2 linked regions of the Homo sapiens genome follow. The protein of the gene in region 2 purifies or fractionates together with the protein of the main gene of each other region. This does not show direct contact. Each region holds a gene or a part of one and is shown on either strand. Other genes may lie near its edges.

What was found.
Region 1: the proteins of LRIG1 (region 2) and PON2 purify together in Homo sapiens (affinity purification with mass spectrometry; 3 studies listed by BioGRID and IntAct, with this or other methods). This does not show direct contact.

Annotation. Positions count from the first base shown.
Region 1 is NC_000007.14:95,425,016-95,432,041, forward strand, and holds part of PON2 (serum paraoxonase/arylesterase 2), read right to left. Parts: intron 1-7,026. UniProt on the Homo sapiens protein: Capable of hydrolyzing lactones and a number of aromatic carboxylic acid esters. Has antioxidant activity. Is not associated with high density lipoprotein.
Region 2 is NC_000003.12:66,379,023-66,386,048, forward strand, and holds part of LRIG1 (leucine-rich repeats and immunoglobulin-like domains protein 1 isoform 1 precursor), read right to left. Parts: coding exon 6,959-7,026; intron 5,251-6,958; coding exon 4,969-5,250; intron 4,380-4,968; coding exon 3,960-4,379; intron 3,377-3,959; coding exon 3,251-3,376; intron 2,610-3,250; coding exon 2,457-2,609; intron 1,840-2,456; coding exon 1,555-1,839; intron 1,468-1,554; coding exon 1,241-1,467; 3' UTR 1-1,240. UniProt on the Homo sapiens protein: Acts as a feedback negative regulator of signaling by receptor tyrosine kinases, through a mechanism that involves enhancement of receptor ubiquitination and accelerated intracellular degradation.

The DNA of each region.
Region 1 (7,026 bases), on a different chromosome or scaffold from region 2:
GCCAAGAGAAAATGGCATTGCTCAGAGCCTGACACACCAAAGACATCCCACAAATAGTTACTAACAAAAAAGAAAAGAAGGTAGCATCCCTATGACAGTATTTTTTTAAATAAGAATGTATTTATCTTATTTCAATAGCTTTTGGGGGTACATGTGGTTTTTGGTTACATGGATGAGTGATATAGCAGTGAATTCTGAGATTTTAGTGTACCCATCCATGACAGTATGTATTGGAATAGGAAGGTTGGAGAACACCAACTAGTTCTGTAACTACTTCAGCAAAACTATTTGCTGTTGTATACCCAGAAAATTAAAAGAAGGAAATAATAAGAGAATGTTGAACTCTAATAGGATGTCTTCCCCCTCCCTCTCCACTCTAGAGGGCCAGGAAGCAGTTTGGGACAATATCTGTGGGATCTTTTGTTTTGAAGGCCACATACTATTGGCTTTCCCTTCTCTCTCACATTTTTCACCTTCTCTGTTCTCTAGAGCCATAAATAATAAAAATAGCACCTTGTAGAAACTTTACATTTTTCAGTGGTTCCCACATACCATACATTTAAGAGACGAAATAGCTATTTGCCATGTGTCCTTCTCCTGTGCATATTCCTGACAGCTTCTGAGGTCTAGACACTGGGGAAGGCTTCTGGAGTATGGGGCAGGCTACCAGTTTCTTCTAGATAACCCAGAATGACTCATAGGTTGTACCAACTACACATTTTGGCAATTCATATCAGACATAAAGTTTCTAATTAAAATGTTAATCAGTATGTATTTGAAATCATGTAACTCAAATAATGTTAAATTTTTTGAAACAATATAGCAATAAGGCAAAAAGTACAAATAAATCAATATTTAAATATAATAAAAAATAATGCATTAAATGTATTAAATAATACAAATTTTTAAATAAGGCATTAAAAAATACAATAAATCTCATGGCCTACGTGTCACAGAAGTGATTTAAGAGAGGAAAAATAAGCTAGAAAACCAAATACTGCATGTTCTCACTTTAACTGGGAGCTAAACAATGGTGCACATGGACATAAAGATGACGATGGTAGACACTGGGGACTACTAGAAGGGGAAGGGAAGGGAGTAGACAAGGGCTGAAAAACTATAGGGTACTATACTCACTACCTGGGTGATGGCATCAGTTGTTCCCCAAACCTCAGCATCAGACAATATACCCATGTAAAACCTGCACATGTACCCCTTGAATCTAAAATAAAATTGAAATTATAAAACAGAGAGAGAAAAAAAAAGTTTATGTAGCCTAATGTGGTAGTAATCTTAATTGTGATGATGAGGATGACACTGATGATAATTGTGGGTGGTCAAAGGAAATAAATAATAAAAAAGTATAATTTACCGCTGTTCTAAGTGATTTACCTCCATGCATTCATTTAATTCTTCAAACAACCCTGTAAATTAGGTAGCATTATTCCAGTTTAAAAGATGAGAAAACTGAATCAGACAAAACAATTTTCCCACGGCGCAACTTAGCCAGAAGTGCTGGAAGCAGGGAAGCTTTTGCTTTAAACTACTTTGTACTTTTCTCAGAAAGAAGTAAAGGGATCTGTGTTCTTGTCTCAGCAGTGAAACTGCCATGACCCTTGGCAGGTCAGTTAATCTCTATAGGTGTCAGTCTTCTTTATGGATAAAATAAGGATGAGCCTAAAACACCTCCAAGATTCTACAAATGTTATATGACTCCAGAAACAGATGTAGATACAAAGCAATAGGATGTAACTGCTGTTTGTACACCAAGTTTTAGTATCATGCATTGGTTTGGATGTCAATTTTACACAACTTACTACTATGCCTATTTGACTATACAAAAATAGGGATAACGATGTTTACCATCTACCTTTTTCAAAGATAATCTCTTTGGATTAAATAAAATCTGTTCAAAGTAACATATTCTGATGTGTTTGAAAAGTTTAATATGGGGTTCCTGTTTCAGAGTCAACTTAGGTTTGCGTAAGTAATTGGTGCTAAATAGGGCAATCTTCATCAACTAGTTTTCTTGTATAATATCATGTTTTCATATGCAGCCTACCTGCTATTAACATGGAAGAGTTACATGAGGGTTGTGCATAACTTCTACTTAACTAATTTTTTTCTTGGCTTTCCTTTTTGATAAAAGAAAATGAAGGTTTTGCCTTTATCCTTCCTGGACCATCAAGACTTCCAAATTTCTTCAGTAGGAAACTGCCAGACTTTTTCCCTGGCAGAACAATCAGTTCCCTGCTTGTTAGTGGACTTCTGTTTTCTGGGTGGCAGACCCTAGCGGCTGACAAAATTAACGCCATGCCCAACCCCCTTTCTTTCTCCCTTGTCGTTTCTATTGTAGTGGTGGGCAAAGCAAATATTTGCTTTCCCAGACTCCGCTGTATTGAGGTGTAGTCATATGACCCAGGTTTTGGGGAAAGACACTGTGTTCTAGATACAAAGGAGAGTCACGAGAAGAGAGCTAGCTGGCATCACTCAATCTCCTTTCTTCATGATTTGAACACACACGCAGTGTTTGAGACTGCGGCAGCCATTCTGCATCCTTGAGAAAGATACAGCTATAAAGTCAATAGGGGGAGATCAAAGAATGAAAATATATGAAGAACCCAGTTCCTTGATATAATCACTGGCTCAATGAACAAGCTCTATATTGGGTCACCCACAGAGCTGTTTTTCATGTGAGGAAAATAAATCCCTCTTTGAATGAACTACTATTAATCTGATATATGTTACTTGTGGCTGGAAGCAATCCTCGCTGGCATCAGATTTAAGAACTTTGTGTATTTAAGAAATACATATATTTCTCTTAATATAGAGAAAGCTATACAAACCTTTTTGGATTAGATTAATAAATCTAAAAGTATTCATGTAAAAAATACAACATAAATGGTATAAACACATATAAGTGATGATATGAGAGGAGGAACACTCTTTACTTTTGCTAGAGCCTATTTGTTCCCTAACACTTTATGTCTATAACATGCTTATGACTGTGCCAGGTCAGAGATGCATGGCTGTTGCCACTCTGCTGTCATGCAGGAATTGCTAATCAATAACAGCACTCTCCCTCTAACCCAGAGCCAGCCTCAGACACATTGTTTCGCAACCACAGGGAGTCTGTTAAAATTGACACTCAAAAGGAAAGCTATTTGCCTTCTCTGTTTTAGGTTCCTTTTGTTTTCCTTTCTTTTCTTTTTCATTACAGTTATTTATTTTATTATTTCCTCATCACGAGCCTATGGTAGGTATAATACAGCAAACAGTATCCGCTGGCTTCCTTCATTGGTGTCACAATCATTCCCCAAGTGACCCCTATGGAGTCCAGTGACCAAGGAATCCATGGGTAGAATTCAGGGATCCATGAACTTGGATGGGGGAAAAATACATCTTTATTTAAACCTTTAACTCAAATTGAGTATTTCCTTTGATGATGAGTATAAGCAACAAACCACAATACTATTAGTAGTATTTGTGACTGTCACTAATAGAAATTATAGATACTTTTCTATCGCATTTCAGTTGTAGATAGCTCAAAGTGCCATTTACATTCATTGCAACTTCAAAATATCTGCTGTTAGACATTTACCTACCTCTAGATCCATTTAAGGGTTTAATTTAAAAAGCATATTATATCATAGATTTTTAAATAGCTTGGTAGCAGTATTTAATTGGTTTCCTGTGTAATCCTATATATTTTATTTTACTCATTTAAAAACATGATGCTGAGAAGGAATGAAGGCTTTACCAGACTGCCAAAGGGATGTATGGCACAAAGGTTTAAGGAATTATGCTTGAATTTCATTGTCTACATAGATGACATTTATTGAGCTGACTGTGCGCTTGGCATTATTTTAAGCATTCTCATAGTCCCACTGTGGAGCAGGCAGTACCCCATCCTACAGATTACAACACTGGGGCACAGAAAAGTGAAATAATTAGTCCAAGGTTTCAGGTAAATAGTAGAGCTATGAATGAACTCAGGCTACCTGTCCACAAAGCATGAACTTTTTTTTTTTTTTATACTTTAAGTTCTAGGGTACATGTGCACAACGTGCAGGTTTGTTACATATGTATACATGTGCCATGTTGGTCTGCTGCACCCATTAACTCGTCATTTACATTAGGTATATCTCCTAATGCTATCCCTCCCCCCTCCCCCTACCCCACAAGAGGCCCCGGTGTGTGATGTTCCCCTTCCTGTATCCAAGTGTTCTCATTGTTCAATTCCCACCTATAAGTGAGAACATGTGGTGTTTGGTTTTCTGTCCTTCCAATAGTTTGCTAAGAATGACGGTTTCCAGCTTCATCCATGTCCCTACAAAGGACATGAACTCATCCTTTTTTATGGCTGCATAGTATTCCATGGTGTATATGTGCCACGTTTTCTTAATCCAGTCTATCATTGACGGACATTTGGGTTGGTTCCAAGTCTTTGCTATTGTGAATAGAAAGCATGAACTCTTAACCAACAGTCATTAGCATGAAATCAATCTCAGTGTCTTTCATTCAGGAAACAGCAGTACCCATCCAGAGTAGAATGAGACCAGGGGCTGCTAGCTATTATCTGGCCTCATGGCAGGTAGCAGTAAGGGTGTACCATGCTACGGTGCCAATATGCCCCTAAGCAAAGTGGGAACACAGTGTTACTATCAGGAGTTTCTTTGTGCCATACTTCTCTGCTTTTGAAATTTACATACAACTGCTGGGGCTTTATCTCCTATGTGCAAGTGATATACAAGCCAGGGCTTTATCTTTTATGTATAGCCTTGTAAAAACCCTTTGGAATTCACCCCTTGGGCTCTGGCAATACTTGCACTAAGTAACTAAGAATCTGTGCTTAGGCCTGTAAACCTAGGGAAAATTTGCTCCACTGGCAGAGAAGCTAGAAGACTGTGGGGAGCTGGGGCAAACTGTATTTGGAATCAGGAGACCTGGCTGAGGCGACAGGTTCAGCACTAATTATTCATTAATTATATTATTCAATATTTATATTATTCTGTTGAACTAACTAGTTAACCTCTCTAACCTCAGTATTTACAGTTATAATGTAAAAGGGAAGATATCTATGAAGACTGGATGAAGGCATAAAAGTAAAAGAGCTTTCTTTCCAAATATCAGTAAATGTACGTTTTGGTTTAATATAAAGAAATTTGGCAGGGCTCAGTAGCTCATACCCATAATCCCAGTGCTTTGGGAAGTTGATGCGGTAGGATCACTTATGGCTAGAAGTTTGAGATCAGCCTGGGCAACACAGCAAGACCCCCATCTCTACAAAAAAATTTTTTTGTTTTTTTTTTTTTGAGACAGAGTCTCGCTCTGTTGCCAGGCTGGAGTGCAATGGCTCACTGCAACCTCCGCCTCCCGGGTTCAAGTGATTCTCCTGCCTCAGCCTCCTGAGTAGCTGGGATTACAGGCATGTGCCACCGTGCCTGGCTAATTTTGTATTTTTAGTAGAGATGGGGTTTCACCATGTTGGTCAGGCTGGTCTTGAACTCCCGACCTCAGGTATCCACCCGCCTCAGCCTCCCAAAGTGCTGGGATTATAGTAATGAGCCACCGTGCCCGGCCATGTTTTTTTAATTAGCCAGGTGTAGTGGTGCATGCCTATAGTCCTCACTGCTTAGGAGGCTGAGGTGGGAGGATTGCTTGAGCCCAGGTGTTCTGGGTTACAATGAGCTATGATTGTGCTGCTGCACTCCAGCCTGGGTGACAGAGCAAGAACCTGCCTTGAAGAAAAAAGAAAAAAAGAAAGAAAATATTTTTTAAAAGATAGATTAAAAAAATAAATAAAGAAGTTTTTACACTTTTGACACACTGACTGACCAGCACACAAGAGTTACATAATAAATGATTTAAAGGATGGTGGTTTAAAAAAAAAAAAAAGGGAAAAAGGCTGCTCTTTCAGAAGTAGAAACAGACCACATAGCTTCTTGTGGGAATTGTCATAAAAGGTGCGAGGCAGCAAGCAGAACATTCACATGGGTACTCTGGGGGTTCCTGCCCACGCTTAGGTCTCTGATGCACTCAAGCCTCATGATTCATCCATGGCTGTGTACCTTGACACCAGGAACTGGCCTGGGAATATTTGTATACTGTTATTTTCCCCTTTATTGCTCAACTAGGGAGGGGTGGAAAAGGAGGGTGTGGAATCCCAGTTACAGTTCAGAAGAAGAAAGACAACTTTGATGGCATTTATCCCTCTGGGACATCCTTATACTAAAAATTGAAGTGGGCAACCTGGGGAGAGAAATAACTTGATTGCCAAAGTACCATCTCTAAATATTGAATAATCAAACAGTAGGCATCAGATTAAAGCAAAAATCAAACATAAAGCCTCTGTTCCTTCAACTTCCTCTGAAGAGCCTTTCCTTATGGGGAGGTGGGAACATGCTTTTTTTCTTTTTTTTTTGAGGGAGTCTTTCTCTGTTGTCCAGGCTGGAGTCCAGTGGCTCAATCTTGGCTCACTGCAACCTCTACCTCTGGGGTTCAAGCAATTCTCCTGACTCAGCCTCCCAAGTAGCTGGGATTACAGGGATGCACCACCACACCTGGCTAATTTTTGTATTTTTATTAGAGACGGGGTTTCACCATGTTGGCCAGGCTGGTCTTGAACCCCTGACCTCTAGTGATCTGCCCGCCTCAGCCTCCCAAAGTGCTGGGATTACAGACGTGAGCCACTGTGTCCGGCCAAACATGCTCCTTTTTAAAACAGACTCAAAGGGTCACCAAATTCTGACAGAAGGCACTCGAACATATGATAAAATACAGGGTACCCAGTGATATTTTAATTTGAGATAAACAATGAATGATATTTTAGTATAATTATGTCCCAAATTCCACGCTTAATGCTAAAAGTATGGTATAAGTATTTCATGCTTATACTAAAAAAAAAAAAAAAAATCCATGTGAAATTCAAAGTTAACTGGGTAGCCTACATTTTTCTTTGCTAAATCCAGCCACCCACCACCTACCCCAACATTCTCACGTCAGCCCATTTGGGGCTCCACATAT
Region 2 (7,026 bases):
TGTGCTTACCTTTTGAACAGTGATGACACCTGACAGTAATTGTTAACTATTTTCTCAGTAACTCCCTTCAGCTTTTGGCCAAAGGAACATTTGAAGGACCTTGTTTCTATTTAAGTTTTACTAAATGACACATTGGCACTCATAAGATGGTTAGCTACCAGTCTCAAAAGTGCAAATTATACCCAGAACCCAGGTCAAGGGCTGTCCTTTCCAGTCCCAGCTCAGTTTCATCTGTGCGAAGGAATGGCATGGACAGGCCTGCTCTGGGTCCTTAGTAGAAATAAGGTAGCCCTGAAAAGTCAGAACTTCCTCCTTTCTGTCCCCCAAGGCCAATGTAATACTCATTATATTGGCAAAACGAAAACATCAGTATAGAAAAATCCACAGGTACCAACACCAGCAGCCTTTACCTTAATTTAAAAGTCTCAAATAGCAATCGAATGATACTGAGAAGGCCACATTTGCTTTTATCATAAAATAAGAGGAGGAGGAAAGGCAGTGTTTAACTGTTCTGACCTTTTGCTTGTGATGGATTAACAACCCTCATTCTACGCCTTACAGACGGACAGATTCTACGCCTTACAGACAGACAGGACTTAAACCTAAAAGGAAAAGCCATTCACTGCAAGTGTGGATGGCACTTGCACCCCTGGCTCTACAGACAGGGAAGCCTGTTGCAGGGGCATCCACACATGAGCAGTGCTCACCTGAAGCTCCTTCCGGCGCATGTGGAGTCCCACCGCACAGCAGCCTAGGGGTCTATGAAGTGCAATATAAATCCAAGGCCTTCCATCCTTCCCACCCCGCACCAAAAACTCCTGTGAACAAATGTGGTTGTAGCCTCTATAAATTCCAGCCATGCGTTAAGGCACCAGAACTATTTCCCCACCCCCTCCAAAATTAAACAGCAACCTGATACGAAAAATAATATTGTCAAAATTGTATAATTTTTTTCTGTTAACCATGCACTAAAGATTAAAATAGCCTCTGTAAAAGATATATATGAAATCTCTGAAAACTCTTATGTACAATGATATCAAATACTTTTTTTGCCTTTTGTACACAAATCCCCTCTTGCGTTTACTGTGCTTCAGATCCAAGTCCTGTGAGCGACTGATACTCCACATGGGAGTTACAACTATGTACAGATGAGTGACGCTTGAACCCAAGCTTCCTCGCAGCCTCTCCTACCTCTCTTTCCCGTAGAGATTGGTATGACAAGAACTGAGGTAGACAAAACCTAGCTTTTTGGTGCCAACAGCAGTGGCACCCTCTGTTTCCCGGGGAGCTGTCCTGTCAGTGGCGTGGACTCGGGACTGGCGTCACATGCTTTGGGGAGGTGGCCATTGGAAACAAGCAAGTACTGGGCTTCCGCGCGCTCTGGACTGCCTGAAGTTAATGAAGATGCAGGCTGTAGCTCTGTGGAGTCCGGGTGATACAACCTTGCTAAAGTCCAGGAAGAATCCCCTACAAGGAAAGAACGAACCTGTCAGACCCCCACTTGACCGTTTAAGCAGCTCCCAACCCACCTGTTAGAAGACAGTCAAAAGTTACCTTTCCCATCTAGAGATGCCATTGGCTTTTTCTTCACAGCCGTCAGCATTCTATCGTGGTTACTGGGGTAGAGCGACCCTTGGCACTCGGGGCAGGACCCAGCGGCAGTCCTGCTGCACTGGTGATGTGGAGAATGCTCTTGGTCACTCCCACCCGGCTCCGGGCCATTTGGCGCACTTGGCTGTGCGCTGTCTCTGGACACAGGCTGGGGGTGGAAGGCTTGTCCCCTGGAGTAACAGTCCACTTCGGTGTTGCAGTCACTGCATACGACCCGGCCACCGTGTTCTGAAGGACAGCGCCAAAGATGGGTTAGAGTCACTGCTGTGGGAGTCTTCGTCCCCACACAGAGGACAGGCTGCTCAGCTCCACTGTGCAAGGTGAGAACCCTGACTGCAAACACTGTATGCATGCTTCCTCTTTTCCCCAACTATGTCCCCAGAGAAAGGACTGGGCAAACACCAAGTCACTCATGAACTGTGGGGTCTTTCGTGTTTACAGTGAATTTCATAGACAATGTAGTCTTACTGCTTCACGGGGGAAAAGCCATTAGCCTTAGGTACCATGCAGTGTTGGGTCTTTTCAACAATTAGAAATAAGCCTCAAAATAGCCCTGGTGAAAAAGTGCTGACTGAAACTCTATACTTCGTTTGTGCCTTGCCCCTTATTTAAGTTGCTTATACATCTAGAAAATTCATGCTCAGGCTTACCATGGCGTAGATTTATTTAGGAGAAACTATCCTGGAATTAAGAGAGCCAGGCCTGAGCTTCCCCTGTATATACTGAATACCAAATTTGGAGACAGCTGTGGACTAGGAATGTGTCTCCCCCTTTGATGTAGTGACTAGGTCAGCCCAAATTTCCATTTCAGAAAGAAACTACTTCCAATGGGAAGCATCTCATACCCATCTTATGTGGCCCAGGTGTCCCTTCAGCTTTCTCCATCGCTTTCCACGGCTCTTTGTGATACGCAGACCCAGCACAGAGCTTTGGCTGCCTGCAGGCAACGCTGTGAGTGTCGGGCTCTGGAAAGTGGCTTGCATCTCTTGGACACACACCTGCAAGTGGATTCCAACACGATTAGAAACTCTGGGCTTGGTATTTCACAGTAAGCCTTATGAAAGGAATGAGCAAGGCCGCTAGAACAGTCATTTTTTTTAAAAAGTTCTTCAGAGCGGTGGGGCTGCTGGTCTGGCAAGCAGCGTGTTTTCTGCTACTACTTCCCAGCAGGCAGGCTGGCCTTGTGAAATGAGCAGCTGTCTCAGGGTGAGCCTCTACAGTCTCAGGCAAGTGCTCAGAGGCCCCCACCGTTGGAAGTACCTCATCCTGGTGACAGCTTTCCAGTGTAAGACTGGATCACAGAGCAGACCTGGGCACGTTCCCCATGTAAGGAATGGGTTGGCTGGGTTCATGCACCGTAATGCCCTTTCCAGCTGCTACTCCAGGCAAGCCTACTTTATCCTGCCAGGGAGATGCTAAGCCCAATCCAGTGGCTTCCTGAGGGGACAGGACTTTAAAACCTTGCAGAACTCATGAAGACTGGGTCCAAAATAGCAGCCCTTAGTCATACCGCCTTCTACTTCACCAAGTTTGCCCCATCTAATGCCAGGTACCTGCCCTGTAAAGACCTGGAGGCCACCTCCAGCACCCAGAGACACAGTCACAGCAGAGCTCTGCTTCACAGTTACTGAGGCCTTACCATTGCTCTCAATGTGCCCATTGGCCTGAGGGCCACCCTCGGTCCTGACCACGGTTTCTTGTCGGTCAGAAAGGGTCCCCTGAGAAGAGAGGTAGCTTGGAACATCTGGTGGCACGACGGTTTCATCTGCAAGGAGACAGAACAAATAGAACACCAGGGTCTCAGTGACAAGAAATGCAGACACACGTTCACTGTCAAGCTCAGAAAGGGGATCCTCCCAGTGACGACCATCAGCGCTGTGCAGAGAGATGACATGGAGTCCATGTACGCAACAGGCCCTCCCAGAGCCTGCTCAGCTTTACTCTACACCCAGCGTGAAGAGCGCAGCCAGCAGATGCCAGACGCCACAAGAAGTGGAGACCAGTGATGGAAAGCCGGGGCTCACAGAAGTACCGCACTGTTTCAGGAACAACCTACTACGTGGCAGCAGGGCCTGTGCATAGGCGGCCTCTGAGTTAGCAAGGAGAGGGAAAACTGCATGGTGCGTCAGTTACTTGTATTTGTGAGTATTCCTGTTTAAGGTTAAATTTGAGAGTATTCCTGTTTAAGGTTAAGTTCCTCAAAGTTAAAATGGAATTAGTGGGACTAAACCCTCAGGAGTTCTGAACACAGTGCAATTCTTTCAAAAGCCACTGGAACCCGGCCCAGTTCCCCAGCATCACTGCCATTCCTCCCTCCTTGAAAGTCAGCTCCGCTGGCAGGGCCTGACCTGTGTTGGTGACACTGTACTCTTCACTCTTCTTCCTGGTCTGGTAGATGATGCACACCCAGACCAGTGACGTCAGGACGATGCTGCTCACGACAGCAATGGTGAAGATGCCTACCGTGGTCCCATCCTTCCTGCAGCCTGCTGCGGGCAGGACGCTCAGCTGGCTGTGAGCTCGCTCCGTGCCCAGGGTGTTGGACATCTCACAGGTATATCGGCCCGCATCCTCTGCCACCACGTTCTGAACCACCAGGAGCTGGTTGTCAGGGGTCAAGTGGTGCCGCTCAGTGAGGCTCAGCGGGCGGTCCCCCTTGAACCAGGTGATGCGGGGCGGAGGGTTCCCCGTGGCTTTGCATTGGAGGGCCACTGTTTCTCCCACAGATACCACACGGTCTTCCAAGGGGACCACCAAGGATGGGGTCTCTACAAGAGAGCAACAGAGATCTTAGTCATTCTCAGGGCCTCCGTTGCTCTGGCTCTGCCCGGTCTTCTGGACAACGGACAATCCAACATATCAATGAGATGCATCTGAGATTCTGTCTCAGAGTGGCAAGCTTTGGAGAAGACCCTTCAACTCATTGACTGAGTCATCTCCATGCTGGGAGTGGCTTCCACAGGGACAGTGAACCTCTGCTGACAAAAGCCCCTGCTATTCCCTAACTGTCCTGTGTCAGGCCTGTGTCCTTATTCTTGACCAAGCCCACATCCATCCTGTCCAATTCTTAAAATGTTCTGTAGCTCTTGACCAAGCCCACATCCATCCTGTCCAATTCTTAAAATGTTCTGTAGCTAAACCCTATGAAGACTCTTAATTCACCAGCTATCATTTCTTTTAAAGAGATAGAAACACTTGTTTAAGAAAAATTAACTCAACTCAAAAAGCAGCCCCAAATTTCAAACAGGGTCGAAAGGCCCACAACGCATACCACCCCTGGCCACACAGAGCATTTGAGAGTCTCTCTCTCTCGCTCACACACACACACACACACACACAGTAGAGCAATAGGCAAACCTAGGACAGTCAGGGTGGCATTAGCTGAAATAGAACCGGCTGAGTTCTGAGCAGTACAGCTGTAAACCCCTGCGTCATCTATTTTCACATCAGTGATGAAAAACACGTCGTCATCCGGCATGACATGCATGCGTCGCTCACGGGCAGCGGGGAAATCCGTGCCTCCATCCTTCTGCCAGGCAATCTGAGGGTTTGGGTGACCTGTGGCAGCACATTCGAGGCGGGCCATGGTGGTGGTCCGGATGGTTATGTCGTGGGGCGTTTTGGTGAATGATGGCAACACTGGAAAACATACGTATACAGGGTCGGGTTACGGGACAGCTAGATGCAAAACCAGGAAGTCCTCTGGCAAACACCTACCTGTCACTGTGCCCAGTGCCAGTTCACTTCTTTTCTCCCAATGTCTGCCCAGGACCACTCCTGCCACCTGTGAATCAGGAACCCCCAGCTTCTCCCACCACAGTTGGAACACTTCCATCCCATCAGCCTTGCATTGTACACCCTAGGCTGGCTATAGTCCCTTCAAAGCAAAGGCTTTTACTCTACATGGCAGTGCCTATACGGGAGTTGCAGGGGGTGCCCATCCACACTAGGTAGGCCTGATGCTTGCCTGCTTTACCCACCAAGAGAGAGGCTGTGGAGATGGAATTACAGAGGGAAGGTGGGCATGCCTCCACCTTGGGAGAGCAATGGGATGGCTCATCCGTTTGGATGGGTGTTCATGGGATGAATGGGATGGCTCATCCATTTGGATGGTTGTTCACCCAGGCTGTTCCTGCCCACTGCCGTATACCCAGGCAGGAAGCATTCAGCTTGCTAGCTTGCTCAGCCTAAAGATCGATGTCCTGACAGAGTGGGACGCATCCAGCCACGTGTCAGGCACCACCAGAGTTCCTGTCAACGTCAATTTTGGGGAGAGTCTAACAAACAGCTGAGTCTTTCGGAAGCTGTGAGGACTTGGAATAAGCCAAGACAACCCCACTACAGTGTGGTAAAGAAGGTGTTTCGCTGTGATCTGTGGGGGCTTAAAGAGCAAAGCAGATCCACCATTCTGATGATTCTCAAGCCAATTCTTTTTAACTAGAGAGTTAGTAATCAGGATAACCCCATTAGGTTACTGGGGTGGGACAGTAAACTCTTCAAGCTATCTACTCCCCACCCCCCTCCTCCAAACACACAATAACACATGGTCCCCTTGACAAGCTCCAAGGCTGGTTAATGAGTAAAAACCTGTCAACTGCCAGGACACTGTGTCTTTCAGGCCAGGGCTCACACCAGCCTTGCACTCCACAGTCTCTGGAGCAGTAGCTAGCCTCTGACTCCAATGCTGTGCCATCTACTCAAAGAACAGCAGCTTCCCCAGGCTAAGGGGTATTTGGAATTTGGAAGCCAGATCTCTTGGCTTATAGAGGATAAGAACTGGACAAAACAAGGCTTAGCTCTCCACAATTTGACTTAATAACTAGTTTTTGTTTTGTTTTTGAGACAGTCTCACTTTGACACCCAGGCTGGAATGCAGTGGAGTGATCTCGGCTCACTGCAACGTCCACCTCCTGGGTTCAAGCAATTCTTGTGCCTCAGCCTCCCAAGTAGCTGGGATTACAGGCATGTGCCACCACACCTGGCTAATTTTTGTATTTTTAGTAGAGACGGGGTTTCACTATGTTGGCCACACTAGTCTCGAACTCCTGGCTTCAAGTGATCTGCCCACCTCAGTCTCCCAACTGCTGGGATTACAGGCATGAGCCACAGCACCCGGCCAATAACTAGATTTTTAAAACTCACCAAAAACAAGTAACTCATTGTGAATAACCCTTGAAATCTGCAAAACTTGCTCTGGGGCAAACCCAGGCAACAATAGGATTTAACAGTGCCCCACAGAAGCATGTGTGTGTCCTGTCTCAGTCATCTCTACATGGAAAGCTGAAAGGGCAATCAGGAGTGTGCTTTGTAGGATTCTGGTACTATAACAAAGATGGTGTTTCCATACCATTCACGGTGAGCCTGGCCTTATGTGAATAGGTGGAGCCAAAGTGGTTGGTGATGACACATTGGTAG